Homo sapiens: one gene and its partner. The protein of the gene in region 1 interacts with the protein of each later gene in a pairwise test. Each region holds a gene or a part of one and is shown on either strand. Other genes may lie near its edges.

What was found.
Region 2: the proteins of MYH7 (region 1) and MYOM2 interact in a two-hybrid assay, tested with the Homo sapiens proteins (one large-scale study listed by BioGRID and IntAct).

What each region holds. Positions count from the first base shown.
Region 1 is NC_000014.9:23,411,930-23,415,450, forward strand, and holds the end of MYH7 (myosin-7), read right to left. Parts: coding exon 3,452-3,521; intron 3,342-3,451; coding exon 3,066-3,341; intron 2,174-3,065; coding exon 2,078-2,173; intron 1,965-2,077; coding exon 1,830-1,964; intron 943-1,829; coding exon 925-942; 3' UTR 811-924; downstream 1-810. UniProt on the Homo sapiens protein: Myosins are actin-based motor molecules with ATPase activity essential for muscle contraction. Forms regular bipolar thick filaments that, together with actin thin filaments, constitute the fundamental contractile unit of skeletal and cardiac muscle.
Region 2 is NC_000008.11:2,043,726-2,047,980, reverse strand, and holds the start of MYOM2 (myomesin-2), read right to left. Parts: upstream 2,936-4,255; 5' UTR 2,813-2,935; intron 1-2,812. UniProt on the Homo sapiens protein: Major component of the vertebrate myofibrillar M band. Binds myosin, titin, and light meromyosin. This binding is dose dependent.

The DNA of each region.
Region 1 (3,521 bases):
TCCTGTTCACACATAACCTTCCCCAGCCCCTCATCTGTCTGCCTCCCCTCAAGATGGCTTGCCATAAATGGGCCAGGAGAACCCCATCTTCCCACAAGCCCAGAGGACAAAGGGCTTGGTAATGGGAATTACAATGGGAAGAAATGAGTGGGAAGAAGGGAGCACCCTGGGCCAAGGGGGCTCGGCACCAGGAGGAGCTGAGGAGGACGGCAGGTGGGCTGAGGGTGTGTTTCTCCCACCTGTGGTGGGCAGGGGGTATGCTGGCTTCTGGCGGTGGCTGGAGAGGGTGGTGGCTCTATTTAAAAGGGGATGCAGGCTACAGCTGTGAATCCTTGTGTACTCTCAGAGACTCGCCTGGGACTGGCACTTAGGCAGCCATTGCCTCACCTGGCCCAGTGGTTCACACTTCTGCGGGCTCAGAAAGGGCACTGGCCAGCACCCACACCCCGAACCGCTGCCCTTTGCCCAGCCCTGGGCAGTATCCATGGTGGTGGGTGGGGCAGGGTTGACGGAAGCTGGGGTGCAGGTCCACAGTAGATGGGCTCAGGGTGCTCTAGGTGAACTTTAGGGGTCTCCCTAAATCTCCTTTAAATCCTGGCTGGACCAGGGAGAAGGCTGGGAGGAGAGGTGTCGCCTCTGCTGCATTTGGCTGGTTTGGGGGAAGTGAAAGGGGTTTTCAGTGCTGCTCCACGAAGGCCTCCTAGGCCAGGCCTTTGAATTTGCCCCCACTCCCCTGCATTTCCACCTCCCCTAGTCCAGACCCCATCCCCGGGTCCTCAGGGCAGTGAAGAAGAGTCTGGAGTCAGGATCTCGGCTTCAAGGAAAATTGCTTTATTCTGCTTCCTCCCAAGGAGCTGTTACACAGGCTCCAGCATGGGGCTTTGCTGGCACCTCCAGGGCTGAGCAGATCAAGATGTGGCAAAGCTACTCCTCATTCAAGCCCTTTTGAAAGGAAACAAAGTCCAATCAGTCCTTGGAGAGATGGTATTGGGCAGGGACAGGGCATGGGAACAAAGGTGAGAGGGGTCTGATGGTGGGGGGCCTGCTTTGTGGGCAGGTGGAAGCCCCTGTGGCAGCAGCACATGTGTTTCCAGGGATCGATGTTCGGGGGGCAAGTTCTGGAGGGTAGGGTTCTGGGGTTGGTCAGAGGGAAGTTGCCTGGGCGAGAACAAAGCCAGGCCCGGGTTCTCTGGGATGTCCATTTTAGGTTTGAGTTACAAGATTGCAGGACAAAATTAGGTGGAAGGGAACTGGAAACTAGCAGTTGGGGGGAAACTGGGATATACTGGTTGTATATAAATTAGGGTCTTCTAGGGTGGCACCCCTCCCTAAGGCTGAAATTCCCAGAACCACTGAAACTTAGAGCTGAGCTGGGAGTGGTGGCTCACGCCTGTAATCCCGTACTTTGGGAGGCTGAGGCGAGTGGATCACAAGGTCAGGAGTTCAAGACCAGCCTGGCCAACATGGTGAAACCGCATCTCTACTAAAATATAAAAATTAGCTAGACATGGTAGCACATGCCTATAATCCCAGCTACTTGGGAGGCTGAGGCAGGAGAACCCAGGAGGCAGAGGTTGCAGTGAGCTGAGATTGTGCCACTGCACTCCAGCCTGGGCGGCAGAGTGAGACACCGTCTCAAAAAAAAAAAAAAAAAAAGTTAGAGCTGGAAGAATCCTTGAAATCACAGAGAACTGCATTACCTTGGCCTCTGGGGCCATGTGGCTCAAGTGTGTGGAATAAATGAAAAGGAAGCATCCCGGGTTTGAGGGTGCTCTGTCTGGGTATGCCTGCTGTGGGGGTGACTAGCAAAGCCCAAAAGAGGGACCCACCTTCGTGCCAATGTCACGGCTCTTGGCCCGCAGCTTGTTGACCTGGGACTCGGCGATGTCCGCCCGCTCCTCTGCCTCATCCAGCTCGTGCTGCACCTTGCGGAACTTGGACAGGTTGGTGTTGGCTTGCTCCTCCTGCGGGAGGTGGGAGCATGAGGTGAGAGGGGGCCTGGGTTCTCAGACTCCTGGCTTGGGGGACGAGCTCTCCTATGCCTCCCCTGGGCCTAGTCCCCAGCAGGGTCACTCACCGCCTCCTCGGCCTGGCGCTTGTAGGCCTTGACCTTTAGCTGCAGCTTGTCTACCAGGTCCTGCAGCCGCAGCAGGTTTTTCCTGTCCTCCTCCGTCTGGGGGCCAGAGGGTAGGCAGGGGGTGAAGATGGCACAGTCATAGAAGGTAGCATCCCCTCCGCCCTGCCCTGCTTCATCTGATATCCTGACCCAATTCTACTTTCTGATCCTCACTAAACACTTGAATTCTCCTTATAATTTCTTACCAAATATGTGTAAATATTTTAAATGATCTGTACCAGGAAAGAGTCCAAAGAACTAGTGGGACTCCTGAAATTATGCACAAAATTGTGTGTGTGCAGTGCTCCAGGGAGCAGGTTTTTCAGGGTCCGGGGACCCCATGCGGGATGAAGTCCCCTGCTCTGGACCTCGGCACATGCTGGGAGTGACTTTGGGGCTATGAGTGTGATGGAATTTCCTGGGCTGCAATGCAGGCCAGGAAAACACTGACTTAATCTAAGTTAAGGACAAAGTGTGCTTAGAGAGATAGTGACATCCTGGATTGGAAAAGAAACAAATTCTAATTCAGAGTCTGATTCTAGAAAACACCTCAGAAAGCTAGAGTCCACACTGCCCTGGGCAATGAAAAAGTTTTTATGCTTGTTTGAATGGGATGGGTGTGTTTTTGGTGTCTTTTGGGGGTGACCCTGGCTACATATTTGCTTTCTGGTGAGCTGTACTGGGTGAGCTTTGTCTGGAATTCTGTGTGTGTCCCCTGGCGATGGGCTAAGAGTGGGTGTTGAGATGGAGCTCCCAGGCCAGGAGGCTCAGAGACTGACCTCTGAGCTAGGGGACATTCAGAGTGGGGCAGGGCTAGGCAAAGTGAAACGGGGGCTGCATTCCCATCCTCGCCCTGGAAGAGGCTAAGAGCAAACTCTTCATTCTCCTCAGCTGGTTGTCACTGTGGCTATGGTGCCAGGGCTCTGCCTGGAGTCACCGCCCGTCGCACCTGGTAGGTGAGCTCCTTGATGCGCCGCTCGCTCTTCCTCATGCCCTTCACCGACTCTGCGTTGCGCTTCTGCTCGGCCTCCAGCTCATTCTCCAGCTCCCGCACCCGCGCTTCCAGCTTCTGCAGCTGCTTCTTGCCGCCCTTGAGGGCGATCTGCTCGGCTTCGTCCAGCCGGTGCTGCAGGTCCTTAATGGTCTGTTCCATGTTCTTCTTCATGCGCTCCAGGTGGGCGCTGGTGTCCTGCTCCTTCTTCAGCTCCTCTGCCATCATGGCGGCCTGTGTGCAGGAGAGAGGTGGCACATGGTCTGGTCAAGTCCTCACACACTTGCTGCCCAGCCCACGGAGAGACACTGGTCTGGATCGGGTCGGTGGAGTGGGGGACTTACATCCGTGATGGCCTTCTTGGCCTTCTCCTCAGCATTCCTGCACTCCTGCACTGCCTCCTCCACTTCAGTC
Region 2 (4,255 bases), on another chromosome or scaffold:
AATGTGAAACGGCTCAGGTCTTGAGAGCTCACAGACTAGCTATCCTTCAACCAGTCTGTAACGTCCTGTCCAATGCAACCTATGTATCACTGACGTGACATCCGGTCCTGTGGGCCTGGAAGTCTTCAAACACTTCATGTGTGAGGGGCTACACTTTGTAGTGCTTAGCAAGGCAGAGCTGGGATCACGTGTGCACACTTCCTGCAATCCTCACTCCAATGGTACCTTACTGTGGAAGTCTCCCCGGGAAGTCTTTGGATGGGGGTAACAGGGCACTTTGCCACGTTTATCCCCACATGTATTCCCTGCTCACTTCATGCTCAGGACCACCAAAATCAGGAGGTGTCAGAGGCTTTGCAGAATCCATCAGCCTCAGTTGATTCCACAAGTATGGGGTCACTTGCAACGTGCCAGCCAAGCCTAAATCAGAACCCTTGGATTTCAACAATGAAAACACCTTAGAGCTCCTGGCTCGGGAGAGTAGCAAGCTCAAGTCTTCTGCGCATTTGACTCCCAGTGCCAATGTGCCCTCAACTCCACTTTTATCAATCACATGCCCAACCCAGAAAACCAGCAGGACTGCACGTCCAGCCTCACCCACCCTGAATGTGTGTCCCCTCCGCAATCTCTTCACTCCTTGGGGGACTTCCTATGTTAGAACTTCCCCAGTGTCCCTCACCCAGCCTGGGCCACCACCTCCTGGCCGGGTGTGATGACGTCTTTGCAAGCAAATCCCCACTGACTCAGCACGTGCTGGGTGCCTGCAGCCCTGGCAGCACAGGGCCCTTCTGAGTGGAGGGAACCCTGGAGAGGACTTGCCAAATGCACCCTACAGGTGGAGCATCCCTTATCCAAAATGCTTGGACCAGAAGAGTTTCCAATTCCCGATTTGTTTTTCAGACTGTGGAATACTTGCATTTATACTTACTGGTTGAGCAACTCAAATCCAGAAATTGGATACTTGAGATGCTCATGTAAGCATTTCCTTTGAGAGTCATACCAGCGCTCACAAAGTTTCAGAATTTAGAGCATTCTGGATTTCTGATCTTCAGATTTGGAATGATCAACCTGTACTATTTATGACACTATAAAGAAAATGACAGGACCTGGGCCGATCAGCTCCCCAATGTCCCTCTACTGTCTACATAGAAAGCTGTTTTCCTTTTTAAGGAACTATCTCAGACATGTGTTAAATACCCCCTACACACACCAACCAAAAAAAAAAAAAAGAAAAAAGAAAGAGAGAGAGAAAGAAAGCAGCTTTTCCTCGCAGGGTAGTTTTTGATGTGAGTCCCTGGGGCTCAGGCGCATTGGGAGGCTGAGACTCCAGTGGGGACCTGCTGACCTTCAGCTCAGGGGCCTCCACCTGCTCTGCTGTAAAACAGGGGGCTGAGTGAGGTGGCAGCTAACAGTCCCCCAGCTTGGACAGCCTGTGTGTAGATAATCCTGGCGCCACGCTGTACTGTTAGCACAGACCGTCCCCAGGGAAATATGACTTGCCCGGGTCACCGGTAGGGCCACGGCCGAACCCAGGCGCCAGCTGACTCTCCTGACAGCGTCCAGCCCACTTTCCACCACAGCCCAGCTCCCCGGCCACTCCCGGAATGCTCCTGACACGTTTAGGAATCATGACACCAGGATGAAACGCGAGCCTCTCCTCCAGTGCAGGGGACCACGTGTCTGATATCCCCATCCTAATTCCTTCCTGCAAACAACGTGTGGAGCCCATTCCTCATGTCACCAGGATGGGTTTTAATTTGCAAAAATGTTTGAAGTACAAAACATTGACTTCCACTTAATGAAGGAAATTGTTTGTACAGTTAAAAATGTCAAAGTCAATAAATACACCAAATTAAAGCTTTCTAGAGGGGAAAGGGACTCCCAGACACGCAGCGTTGGCCTGTGCCACAAGTGGCTAAGCCCTTGGCTCCCAAGACAAGTTTTAGCTTGGGACTTGGTTTATTAAATAACGCCTTAAATTATCTTTGTTCCACGCTTTCTTTGAGTCCTGTTTTACTTCTACTTAGTAAGAAAGGAATGTGAAATGGAGAATTAGAAAAGGCCAGGTGTTCCCAGTGATGGCAAACCCCTTCCTTCCGTTTGCCTCCGGTGCCTTCCACGTGCAACCACCCAGCCCCACTGTCTTTCTCCAGCAGGTTGCATTTCAAGAGCACGCCCTGAGAAGGCACAGCCTCTATCAGCGGAGTGGAGCTGAAGAAGTCTGAAGGGTCACAACACACCCAACAGCACAAAGAAGAAAACAGCCGTAAGAACGCTGTCATTTTTGGGCAAAAACTTGCAAGTCCTGACAAGGATTGTTCTCTTTCCCATACCGTGGATAATATAGGCTAGGTCTAAGCTGAATGACCCTCGACTCTTTTTTCCCTTAAGAAAATATCCAGTTTTATTATTTCACACCTTTATAAGTCAGCCCTCTCCTCGGGGGAGGCTTTCGTTTCTGAGAATCTCATGAAACTTGCAGACATCAGTCCACTGACTGGGGGGCCCCCTGGGGCCACGATGAGACCAGGGCTAAAACCCAAAGCACACGCCGCAGGGTGCTAAACGGCACTTAGCAAAGACCACGGCTGTGGGAAATAAAATGTTAGTTGAGCATAAAACCTCGTCAAAGAAATACAGATCCCAGAACTAATTGCTCTGTTTTCCACAGTAAAGGGTGCCTGCGACGGGGTGCACTGGCTCTCTCTTCTTGACCCTGAAGTAGAGGTACTTAGAAAATGTGAGTGCAGAAGTTACCGGTCCTCCCCTTAAAGCCACAAATTAGAAAAGGCAAGAAGAGAAAGACACTTACCCAGACAGAAAGGAAAATTGCAAGGAGGAGAGAGAATTCCTGACCACCGGCTCACCAAGCCACCCACACTCCAGCCGAGGAAGGCAGAGCTGACTCCTGCAAAGCAAGCGCCTGTGCCTCCCTCCCGTTTAAGGTCTGAGGAGCTACTATATATAGACGCCTGGGCCTGCCTCTCCCCACATCAATACCCACATCGTAAATCACCAGCCTGACCTCAGGAGGAAAAGCTTCTTGTTCAAACTGAGGGCGGGGGAAATCACGATTCAAAACTGGAACGTGTCCTTTCTGAGTCCCAAACTGCACTTTTCCCAGGAAACCGGGTGTGACACTTCAGCCCCCGACCCAGAAAGAGAGGGCAGGGCACTGACTTCCCACGCTCCCTCCCCGCAACTCTCCTCCATGAGTTCTAATCCTTACGTGTGAATTCTCAGACATATCTTCAATCCTTTCGAGCTACAGGTTCCCTGGCTCACAAATTGCAACTCCTGAATGAGTCTTTAATAATGACATGGATTTCAGTGAGCATTTGTGCCATTCGCAGGCCTGGACACCCGAGTTGAGGTCGGCTGTGGAGGGAGGGAGGTGCACAAGCCCCTGGGTTTGTGAGCGTGTGTGTGCATGTTCGTGTGTTTGTTCGTTTTTTTTTTTTTATTTCAAGAACGACTCAGGTCTTCACTCGATTGTATCTTAGGGCTATTTTAGCAAGAACTGCCTACCCAAAAGAGGAGCGGTGCCTAGTCGGCAAGTCGGGGCTTATTTATAGCCATTACCACAGACGTACACTGCGTCTACACCACACGGATAATTGCAGGGTGCCCGTCGTTTCGCACAGCGTGTGTCCAAATATAGATAACACACACCTGGCACGGTCCTGGGCTGCAGCCTGGCCAAGAGGCGGGGCCTCAAGGGGATGCCCCCATCTGAGGACCCGGAGAATCACACTCCAGCTGCACCTCACCACAGGGGCTGAGGACTTCGGCCAGCTGCTCAGCCCACGGGGGCTATGCTCCCCAGCTCTAAAACGCATGGAATAACAACTTTCCTGTAAGTTTGTTGTGACAAGTAGAGAAAATATGATAAGAGAATTGCCTTAAGAAACTCCACGTTCTCACACTGGGGTATCAGAGGCACAGCCAAGGACCAGCGAGCAGGTGGATGGAGGCGAAGATCAGATACGAGAAAGACGCGAGCACAGCCTCTTGCTGGGCCCCAGAGCGTTCTGGATGCTGGATCAGGAGGCGAGTGTTTCTGTCTTCTTCCCCTTCGTATTCTGATGGCCTAGCATTTAATTTAATTAGTGTTTGTTGAGTGATTTCTTAGTCTATTCAGGCTGCTTTAGCAAAACACCATAGACCGTGTAGCTTATAAAACACAGGAGCTTCTTTCCCACAGTTCTGGGGACTGGAAGTCCAAGATCCAGGTACCAGCAGACACTGCCTGGGG